Linked DNA regions of Homo sapiens. The protein of the gene in region 2 interacts with the protein of the main gene of each other region in a pairwise test. Each region holds a gene or a part of one and is shown on either strand. Other genes may lie near its edges.

Evidence for each region.
Region 1: the proteins of RDH14 (region 2) and METAP2 interact in binary tests that used the Homo sapiens proteins (3 or more experiments, as listed by UniProt).

Annotation. Positions count from the first base shown.
Region 1 is NC_000012.12:95,469,062-95,477,169, reverse strand, and holds the start of METAP2 (methionine aminopeptidase 2), read right to left. Parts: upstream 3,019-8,108; 5' UTR 2,991-3,018; coding exon 2,840-2,990; intron 1,100-2,839; coding exon 992-1,099; intron 1-991. UniProt on the Homo sapiens protein: Cotranslationally removes the N-terminal methionine from nascent proteins. The N-terminal methionine is often cleaved when the second residue in the primary sequence is small and uncharged (Met-Ala-, Cys, Gly, Pro, Ser, Thr, or Val).
Region 2 is NC_000002.12:18,554,062-18,557,787, forward strand, and holds the end of RDH14 (retinol dehydrogenase 14), read right to left. Parts: intron 1,748-3,726; coding exon 1,130-1,747; 3' UTR 662-1,129; downstream 1-661. Other genes in the region: NT5C1B-RDH14 protein, read right to left, coding at 1,130-1,747. UniProt on the Homo sapiens protein: Retinol dehydrogenase with a clear preference for NADP. Displays high activity towards 9-cis, 11-cis and all-trans-retinol. Shows a very weak activity towards 13-cis-retinol. Has no activity towards steroid.

The DNA.
Region 1 (8,108 bases), on a different chromosome or scaffold from region 2:
ATCACGCCACTGCACTCCAGCCTGTGCGACAGAGCGAGACTCGGTCTCAAAAAGAAAAAAAAAAATAGAGAGTAAAAGGAACAAACGTGCAGTCAGGCACTAGGTTTGAAATTCTGGCTCTATTCTACACATATTAGCTATGTCACTTTGGGTAAATCATGTAACTACCACTTCCCTATCTGTAAAATGAGATGGCTGGGTAAAGCCATGAAGGGCTGGGTAAAGTCAAAATAAATAGGAAAAGACAGTCCATTACCAAAAAACAAAATGGATATCTAAGCACAAGTAGGTTACTTTGCTTGGTTTTGTGAGGTTAAAATGTGAATGTATGTGAAAATAACCTAGGAAAGTATCTAGTACATAGTAGTTCTTCAGTAAGTATTAGTTAAATAAACAACCCCTCAATCTTATTAATACTCACTACTTTGCCTTCTACCAAGTATATTTTTAAACTCTGAGATCTGTCCTATCTGAACAGCTAATTAACACATTGAACTTTTTCAAGACTTGCTAATAAATACCTTTTCCTTTTTAATCTGTGACATTAATTGAGGTAACAAGTGAAATGTCAGAGAAAACACTATACGAGTAAATAAATTTTGATTAAGGAATATCACATTTTCTAGCTTTTCTTTCTTTCTTTCTTTCTTTCTTTTTTTTGAGACAGTCTTACTCTGCTGGCCAGGCTGGAGTGCAGTGGTGCAATCTCAGCTCACTGCAACCTCCATCTCTCGGGCTCAAGCAATTCTCCTGCCTCAGCTTCCCAAGTTGTTGGGATTACAGGTGTGTGCTACCACACCCGGCTAAATTTTTTTTTGTCTTTTTAGAAGAGATGGGGTTTCAACATGTTGGCCAGGCTGGTCTCGAACTACTGACCTTATGTAATCCACCCGCCTCGACCTCCCAAAGTGCTGGGATTACAGGTGTGTGCCACCACACCCGGCTACATTTTCTAGCTTTTCTAACCACAAAGATCAAATTAACCATTTACCTTCATCATCTTCATCTCTTTCTTTATCTTCCAATGCTGATCTTTCCAACTGTCTTGCTACTTCATCCACTGAGGCTCCTGATTCTTTATCAGGTTCCTGTTCCCCTGCTGATCAAAATAAAATAGCAGAAATCAAATCTAATACAGACACTTTCCCACTAGAATATGCTCTAATGATCTTGGAAAACTTACAAATCCTTTCCTCAGGAAACAAAAACAGAAACATTATTGTGAACATAACAGAATTCGTTTAATGACAGAAAAATCTTCCATACCTACACAGTATTGTCCATTCATTAATTTACTCAACAAAATATCCATTACACACACTAGCAGCTAAAAGATAAACAGCGTGAACTGGTCTCTATCCTCAAGTAGTTTAACTTGTAATAGTGGTCAGCAATTAGACTTAACAAATACTTAAACACCAGATAGGTAATAAATGCTGAAGGCCTTAGGAAAAAGATTCATGTGCAACACCCCGGGGCAGCCTGGTTTCATGAATAAGGATATCACGATGGGCTGGGTAAAGTCAAAATAAATAGGCAAAGACAGTCCATTACTAAAAAACTAAAACGCTCAAATATCTAAGCACAAGACCAGGCCCCTGCTCTGGAAGTGATTATAACCTACCTATAAGAGCAATATGTTACATGCATTAATAGTATCAGGTAGCACGAAATGAAGTGACATTCTGGCTACTGGAGAGAATTCATATTAAGAAATACAACTGTTAAAAATACATTAGGATCAGTCAGCTTAACACCTTACAAGACAAACAGCAGTGTTTGAATTTCACTCGAAATCCAGGAACAGCCACCAGAGTAACAAATTTTGCTCTGGAAGAGTTCCAGCAACGCTACAACTCTCCTTCCATTCCTATCTAATCAAAATTTCAGAAAGATGAAGATTAGCTCTCTTCGACCTCTCTCAATTCCATCTTAATCGCTTCTGACTTCTCCATTTTCTGTTTCTCTGGCGATTTTAATTAGAAACAAGTAAAAATAATTTTTATTAAGGTGAAGGAGCTTGTGCAGCAAAAACACAGACTTCTCAAAATATGTAAGTTCCTAGTTCATAATATCCAACTGTAAACTCTCAGCAGTTCTCCTTGCCTTACCAGTGGATTTAGAGGTTAAGACCTCAGAAGTTCCATTCTGAGCCACAGAATATCCTATCTGCACTGCCTGCAATTGGTATCATAATTCAGGTCTAAAGGCCCTAAAGCTTGGCGATGCTATGGGATTAGGCAGGTGAAAATTCGTTATCACCACCACAAATTCTGCAATTAATGACATGAGCGCGCGGGCAAACACACATGTACACACACCCCAAAAGTGCAGGCTGCAACAACCCCAACGTGAAACGGGATAGTGGGAGGAGGTGTGCTCTCCATTACATTTGCCCACCCCCAAAGAAAATAAGTCCTAGCTTGCTCCAGCAAACCAGCAAAGACGCGGCAATACGGATCAGAATCGGATTTTTGAGGCGGCGGCCAAATCGCGCGAAAGATGGTAGGGCTGTGCTCTGCGCACAATCTCAAGACCGTGCCACGATGTGCGTGGGAGCTGAGTTCTGGTAATACAGGGGCTCGGGCCCAGCGACCCCAGAGGTACCACACGCCAACCTCAGGCACTCTTTTCTCCCCCACCAGCCCTCTAGTCCCACAGGAGGAGATGACGCCTCTTCTCAGACTAGGAATCTATAGCCCGGCTTTGCCACCCTGTCAGGCCCAAGAATCAGTCTAGTCGGGGCTCTGGGGCCCCGGTCCCGGCCCCCTCAACGGGCCTGAGCCAAACAGTTCAGCCGTTCCCGGAGGGGACTGGGAAAACATAAAACTCTCTTTACCTGCAGAAGGCCCTTTGCTCTTCTTCTTCTTTCGTCTTTTTTTCTTGGCTGCTTCCTCAGCCGTAGAGGCAGCTCCTTCTTCCCTGTCGTCTGGATCCAGGTCGCCATTCAGGTGGCTCCCGGAGGCCGCTACCTCCTCCACACCCGCCATGTTGCCCGAGAGAGCGCGAGGGAATGAGACAGAGCGGCGAGGGCCCCGATCCTTCTCCACCCGCCTACACCAGCCACGCCGGAAGCTGCTCTCGATGGTAGGGACGCAGGGAATGCTGGGACGGCGGAGGACTCAGCTGAGGGTGTCGGGCTAGCTTCGGGCCGGGCGTGCAGGAGTCTCGGCTTGGAGCCCCGCCTGGCTGGAGTCGACTGGGGCCAGACCCGACTGCTTCGTCCGGTGCCTCGGGCATTCCCGAAGCAAATCGGCAAGCGCAGGGTGAAGTTTAAAGGGGAAGTTGAGCTCTAGAGTCAGCCGGAGATACCTGTGGAGACGGGCAACCCGCCGTAGCAAGCGGCGTCTCTGCTGGAACGGAAATATTTTATATTTGCGTTTTTATAAATCACACAGGCAGTGGGGAAACGGGCTAAGAAATGTGTTCACTTGTACACATTTCTATTGTCATGACTCCACATATCTCTTAAATCTAAGAGATTTAATCAAATCTGCGTTGACATTCACAATCACAGCTCTCCGCGAGGCTCTGTAGGCACTGGAGAGAATTTTGGAAGCTGGAGTTCCGTGTTAGTTTATTGTACTACTCAACCCCGGACGGTTCAAGATGGGAACCCGTCACACTCCGCTCACTTTCCAATTCAGGACAAGAATGACAGGTTTTAACACACGGGGACACGGTCTCTCTCATTAATGCAAAAGATCACACTCCGTTTTCTCTATTTCTGGTCACCTTTCTTTTGGATTTAGGACGTTTCACCAGAAACTAATTGAATTTTGCCCATTTCTTTACTTCTTATGTTTTGAGCCTCATGTTCAAACCGCAGTTTGAGATTTAGTTTGTGGCGTAAGTGGATTGTGATTGGCTGCCTGCACCAACTCCTTCTCAATTTCTCCTGAATATGGCTTTGTCCACCTGGAGAGTTTAGGTGTTTTCATTAGTTTTAAACTAGGCACCAAGCTTCATGGGCATCAAAATGTCGTTAAGAGCCTTATTGCCAGTGAGTTTACAGTAAACCTCACACAGGCTCTGACTGCAGCTGCATAAATGTACATTCTCTGTCTTAAAGCTTCAGGCAGCACCTATCCAATAGTAATAAAAACTGTTCCTCTTATTCTTGTACAGATCTTTATCTCTTTAAATCTATCCCTATTTAGATTTTAAATTGTTTTCCCTAGTTGATTGCTGGCAATATAAAAGTTGGTAAACCGGCCGGGCGCTGTGGCTCACGCCTGTAATCCCAGCACTTTGGGAGGGCGAGGTGGGCAGATCACAAGGTCAGGAGTTCGAGACCAGCCTGGCCAATATGGTGAAACCCCGTCTCCACTAAAAATACAAAAATTAGCCGGGCGTGGTGGCAGGCGCCTGTAGTCCCAGCTACTAGGGAGGCTGAGGCAGGACAATCGCTTGAACCCCGGGGGAGGTTGCAGTGAGCTGAGATTGCGCCACTGCACTCCAGCCTGGGCGACAGAGCGAGACTCCATCCCCCCCAAAAAAGTAAATAAAATAAAAAATAAAAAGTTGGTAAACCAAACATAATACCACAAAAATAAAAATAGAAGTAGCTTCCATGTGTCCAAAATCCTTTAAAATGCCCGGCAAGACCCAGCCATATCTACTTCTCCAATGTCTCCACTCTCTTACTATTATAGCTCCAGCTCTCAAAGCTCTTTCTGACCTTGGAGCATTTCAAACTCACTGTTACTTTTATCTGGGCTGCTCTTTGCTTGGCTGACATATTCACTTATTCACTCATCCATCCATTCGTTCAATGCCTACTATAAACCTAGATCTGGCAATATTTAGAGAGCAAAAACAGAGATGATCCTTGTCATCATAGAGCCAGTTAACAAAAATAGACATCAAGCAATGATGCTAATAAAAGCAAATTTACAACTGCTGCTATGAGAGCATATTACAAAGGGACTTGCCTAGGTAGGATGGCCTGGTAGAGTTTCCTGAGGAAGTAGCAATTAGGCTGAGATCTGAAGGATAAATAGGCAAAGGGGAGGGGAAAGGTTTAGAGAGAGTATTTTTTTTTTTTTGAGACGGAGTCTCGTTCTATCACCCAGGTTGGAGTGCAGTGGCCTGATCTTAGCTCACTGCAACCTCCGCCTCCCAGGTTCAAGCGATTCTCCTACCTCAGCCTCCCAAGTAGCTGGGATTACAGGCGCCCACCACCACACCCAGCTAATTTTTGTAGAGACGGGGTTTTACCATGTTGGCCAGGCTGGTCTCAAACTCCTGACCTCAGGTGATCCACCTGCCTCAACCTCCCAAAGTGTTGGGATTACAGGCATGAGCCATTGCGCCTGGCAGAGTATTCTTGGCAAAGGGAAGGTAAAGAAAAATTTAAGAGGTATTTAAGAGGAGACATGGATTCTAATACTAGAATGGTCATTTGGCTATAATTTTGTGACTCTGGACAGCCCATATATTTTTGAGCCTTGATTTTCTCATCTGTAAAACAGTAGGGAGTATAACACATTTAAAGAACTAAAAAACATCCAGAATGGCTGGAATGCAAAGAGGTGGAGAAGGGAGTGAGTGTGATGAGATGAGACTAGAAAGGTAAGAGCCTTGCAGGAAGGAAAGGGTAGGAGAGCTGACAGAGCCTTTTAGATCATACTAAGGGCTTTATACTTTGTCCTAAGAACAATATAAAACTCTTAAGTATTTTATTTTACTTTTTTTATTTATTTTTCAGACAGGGTCTCATTCTGTTGCTCAGGCTGGAATGCAGTGGCGTGATGTCAGCTCACTGCAACCTCTACCTCCTGGGTTCAAGCAATTATCCCACCTCAGTCTCCCAAGTAGCTGGGACTACAGGCACATGCCACCACACCCAGCTAATTTTTGTATATTTTGGTAGAGACAGGGTTTCACCATGTTGGTCAGGCTGGTCTCAAACTCCTGACTTCAGGTGATCCACCTACCTCCCTTAAGTATTTTATTTTTATTTTTTATTTTTTTCTGAGATGGAGTCTTGCTCTGTCGCCCAGGCTGGAGTGCAGTGGTATGATCTCGGCTCACTGCAACCTCCGCCTCCCGGATTCAAGCAATTCTTCCACCTCAGCCTCCCGAGTAGCTGGGACTACAGGTACGCGCCACCACACCCAGTTAATTTTTGTATTTTTAGTAGAGACGGGGTTTCACCATGTTGGCCAGGCTGGTCTCAAACTCCTGGCCTCAGGTGATCCGCCCTCCTCAGCCTCCCAAAGTGCTGGGATTATAGGCATGAGCCACTGTGTCCAGCCCCCTTAAGTATTTTAATGGTGAGGAGACAGTTAACCTGATGAGAGTTGCAATTAACATGATTAGATTTTTGAAAAGATCACCATGGCTGCAGTGTACAGAGTAGAGTTGAGGGTGGCCAGAATGAAAGCAGGGAGATCAGTTTAGAGGCTATTACAGTCAATAGGTTATAGTGGCTTGAAAGGGAATGATGATGGGTATGACCAAAAAAATGAATAGATTTAAGAGATATGTGGGAGATAAAATGGGCAAGACTTGGTGATGAATTGTATAAGGGATTTGAGAGAGAAGAAGATATCAAGGAATCCCCTTCGGTGTGTGCTGGTGAAACTGGATTGACTGGTAATGTAATGTAAATAACAGAGATAGAAAAACATTTCAGATTTGAAAGGGAAGATTATGAGTTAGATGTGAGACATGCTGAGTCTGAGGTGTCTTGGGGCATTAAAGTGGAGCTGTGAAGAAGGTGGATAACTATAAGGAACTGGAGATCAAAAGAATAGTTGGAGCAGATATAAAAATTTGAGTCATCAACTAATAGATGGGAATTGGAACTTTGACACAGATAAGATCATCCAGCAAGTGGATCTAGACATGAGAGTCTACCTGTACTGCACAGCATGGTGGCCACCTACCACGTTGCCACTGAGCACTTAAAATGCTGCTAGTTCAGGCCGGGCGCGGTGGCTCACGCCTGTAATCCCAGCACTTTGGGAGGCCGAGGCAGGCGGATCATGAGGTCAGGAGATCGAGACCATCCCGGCTAACAAGGTGAAACCCTGTCTCTACTAAAAATACAAAAAATTAGCCAGGCGTGGTGGTGTGCACCTGTAGTCCCAGCTACTCGGGAGGCTGAGGCAGGAGAATGGCGTGAACCCAGGAGATGGAGCTTGCAGTGAGCGGAAATGGTGCCACTGCACTCCAGCCTGGGCGACAGAGCAACACTCCATCTCAAAAAAAAAAAAAAAAATGCTGCTAGTCCAAATTGAGTTATGCCATAATTTAGAATACACACTGAATTACAAAAACTTAATACAAAAATACTAAAGTTTCTCAATAATGTTATATTTATTGTTGAAATGATAATTTTTATATAGAGTTAAATAAAAACATCATTAAGATTGATTGTTACCTGTTTCTTTTTACTTTTTAAAATGTGGCTACTAGAAAATTTAAAATTACGTGAGTGACTATTGGAAATGTAAATTGTCAACCTTAAAAAAAAGACACTAGAGGCTAGGCATGGTTTCTCACACCTGTAATCCCAGCACTCCAGGAAGATCACTTGAAGCCAGGAGTCAGAGACCAGCCTGGGTTACCAAGCAAGACCCCCTCTCTACAAGGAATTAAAAAATTATCTGGGCGTGGTGGCATGTGCCTGTAGTCCCAGCTACTCGGAGGCTAAGGTGGGAGGATTGCTTGACCCAGGGGAAGTCAAGGCTGCCATGAATTATGATCACACTGTCACAGAAGGGCTGGGCTCCCAGCTAAACCCCACCCTTAAGCCTGGAACCATGGCCCTAAGTGAAAACAGCTGACCCCATTTTTCTGCCCAAATGTTGCTTTTTTGGCCTGCCCCACCCCATCCTGTGCCCATGAAAGACTTAAGCTGGCAAAGCAACATAAGCGGCTGAGCGTCGGGAACACGAGCGGCTGAGTGGCAAGCAAAGAAACAACTAAGTGTTAGAGAGTAGATGCAGCTAATTTTGGACGTGCAGCTTCCGAGAGGGGCCTAGCCAGAGATGGGTGGGCTTCAGGTAAAGATCACCTTCCCACCCCCTTTCCAGCCTCTCTTTCCGCTGAGAGCCACCCACTGCTCAATAAAGTTGTCTGCATTCATTACCTTTCAA
Region 2 (3,726 bases):
TAGGTGACTGTTCTAAAATCAGGACTGGATTATCTGATGGGATGACCAGAGATGTACTGTCCAAGATACCAGTTGCTAGACATGTGCCTATTTAAATTAACATTACATATAATTAGAAATTCAGTTCTCAGTTGAATTTGAAGTACTTAATAATCCCATGTTTCTAGAGTCCATCACATCAGACAACACAGAGTATTCCTTTCCTCACTGCAAAGTTCTACTGAACAGTGCTGAGTATGAGAGTATAGGGTAAGCATGGTGCTGTCTCATGGAGCCTCAACTCTATCTTCAACAGTTTAATCTTTAGTCTAAATAAAAGTGGTTTATAAACCACTATATTCTATGAAATCCCTTTAGGAATTGCCGTGGGGGACTCCACCTTGGCAGCATTGCGATAACCTGCTTTACCCCCTCCAGCTTCTACGTTTCAGTGAAACACCGCTTTTGAAGAAAGAATTCTGCCAAATTTTTTTTTTTTTAAGGCTCAAAACCCACTGTTTTTTAAGCAGGAATGTGATAGATTTGGGTTTTAGGAATATTATCTCTCAGAGCAGTGTACAAGATACGTGGCAAGAAGAGACTGGGCAGACCAAGATCAGCATAGGCTAATGGTGACATGATAAAGGACTGTATTCAGTGAAGCCTCCAAAGAAATGCACAGTTAAGAATTTGTACCAGTAAATTTATTCCAAGTAAGACTTGTGTGCACACACCAGGCAGATAATTTCCACACAAACACCAAACATTGTAGTAAAACTAGTTAACACTTTGGCCATGAAACTCAAAGATACTTGAAAAACCTCTCGATAGCACTTTGAGTCACTTAATTCTGACAAATATTAATATGTCATCCATGCTTGCCCAGTTATAATTTTACAATATAATTGTATTTTTCATTGTACTTATTATTCATTATACTTACTATATATATTTAAAACATCTTTGCTGAAATTCTCTTATCCCAAAAATAATTTTTCAGTAACTCCAAAATACCCACATGTACCTCTTAGCAGGCTATTCCAATATCAAAATTCTTTTTCTTCAAGTAACAAGTTCTCAATCCACACCATTCCTGATCACAGATATAACTGATATGCAGTTTTATAAACAGCTCTTTTACTCCTTGTTCCTATTTTAGCAGGCCAACCATCACTTCACTGATATCCCAGAGTTTTCTTGCAACAGATTCATCCATAGCTTTGGGCAACAGTTCTTCCTCTTTACAATCCCCAAAGTATCTTCCTGACACTCCTTCTACCTCAGGTGAAGAGGCCAAATAAATGGAAGTCTGGGCACCTTCTACTGGAGTTTTGAAAAAAGCCCATGACACCAAATTGAAGAGTGGTTTGACCAACAGTGGAATGTGTATGTGCCTCCCCAGATTTGTCCGTACAATACCAGGATGCAACACATTGACGGTGACATTTGTGCCTTCTAAGCGGCGGGCTAGTTCCCTGGTAAAAAGAATGTTAGCCAGTTTGCTCCGGCTATAACAAAAGCTTTTATTATAGCTTTGTTCACTGTTCAAGTCATCAAAATTGATGTCTCCGTATTTATAAAGTTTGGAAGAAACTACCACAATCCTGCTGGGAGCTGAACTTTTGAGGAGTCCAAGGAGAAGATTGGTGAGTAGAAAGTGCCCCAGATGGTTCACTCCGAACTGCATCTCAAACCCATCTTCAGTCTTCATGTAAGGGCACTGGAAGATCCCTGCGTTATTGATCAAGACATCCAGCCTAGGCTCTTCCTTTAAATGTCAAAAAGAGAATGGCAGAATTATTAAGAACACACGCCTTGTATTGCTTTTTCTGTTCATGATAATTACATTTTAATAAAAATGGGCACTTGAGACTAAAAGCATTTAATTTCAGTTGTTGGTCTATCGATCAGAGAACTACTTGAAACACTGGCAATTTTGTGTTTAATAAATGGGGAAAGGGATTCCTCCGCAGGATGTTCCTCAGATAAATACTGATGTTCATGATCTTTCATTCAACAGCTCTTTTTTCTCATTTATTAAAATGATATACAGAAAGATATTTATCTACAGTCATCTTCCAATAAAAGATGTAGAAACTAAATCTAAGACTTAATTTCTGGTTTTATGCTTTTATAACAATAACATTTACAAATATATAAACTTTAACATTGCATTAGAAAGTTGACTACGTGATCAGTACCAAGATCTTTCTCAAAACAGAAATACAGTCAATTTGAGGACAAGGCACTCCTACAATCCCATATTTCTCCCTTTAATTTCAGTTGAACTAGGAAAATATCAATTTGGGAGTTATCAGGTTAATACTGAGATCATATCAAAATTATAAGTGTACCTATGATAAAATGTTTAAAAATACTTGCAAACTACTAAAATTCTATCCCAAAATGCTTCTATGAGCTTCCAATAATTGAGAGAAAAATAGAAAAAAAAATAGATGCAGAAGCTTGATAGGAGCCAGGCTTTGTGCTTTTCGCATGTCACCACATCTAATTCCAACAACTGTATAAGCAAATGAAGCTCACAGGCTAGGTGACTTGCCCAGTATCAGAACTCCTAAGTAGCAAAATAAGATCAGATCTGAAGATGAAGTCTTTGACACCAAGGCCTATTTTCTTAATTAGTAAGCTGGCATGGCTTTCTAATTGGGATTTTCAAAACAGCTAGAGAGGCAATGAAAGCTAGACAGACCATATGCTGTAGAAAACAGGTAAGCATAGTTTATTCCCAGAGCTACTGGTTATCAACACCAAGGGCAAACTTATGGTTGCTTTATTCTGTAGTTCTCTCAGGGTAAATGGCACCATGGGGGTGGAACAACTTCAAGTCATTTCCTTAAAAGTGAAACAAGCAATAGAAAAGGTCAGAAATGCAAACTTAACACTGGAGAGAACATCATGAATAAATCGAGATTCATAAAGAATAATCAAAGATTAAGAAAAAAATAATCAGGTAATATAAAAATATCCAGCGTAAAGGGGACTCTAGGAGATCTGTACAGTCAACATTTTATACTCTGAACTTATGCTTCTGTATCTTTCCAAATTAAAGTCCTAAAATTTAGACTGTTCTCATAGGGAAGTCTTTTTATTCCTTAAATCATGTAAGATGGTCTTCTCTAGCCTTTTCTCGGTTGTTCTGTTTCTTTTGATGGACAAAGAAATGCACATGTTCCAAGTGTAAAGACACTGTGATGACCCATGATTAATATGAGGTCAACTTTCAAATTTCACTGGCCCTTCTGCCAACTATAAGTGAAAAGAAAAATGTGTTACATTTCACAACTGTTATCGAAGCCCACCTGTCAGAGGATTAACTATTTCTCATTCTGCCCTGTCTAAGCATCTTTGGGTTTTCCAATAGTCAACTTCAAAAAGAAGGCAAGAGTTCACTCATGGGGGAAAGAAAGGAGTATTCTTTTTCACAAATCCTTTGGAAGATTTTCCTGAATTAATCATTTGTTATCCAGCATTCTTTGCTGGGCTTGTGTTATTTTAAAATTTTGTCATTTACTATTTTTTTAAATTCTACGAGATAAATGAAATAAATACCAAGAATACCAACCTGTGGGAAATCTACATTTCCATTTTTTTTTCCTTCTAATTATAGTCACTTAACTTCAGAGCCAGGCAGGAACAGAAATACTTACTTAGAAGCAAGGACAACTTAATTATCTCTTTGTGTCCTCACTTTTTAATTAGTTCTGCCTCAAGTGCCAAAGAAGCAAA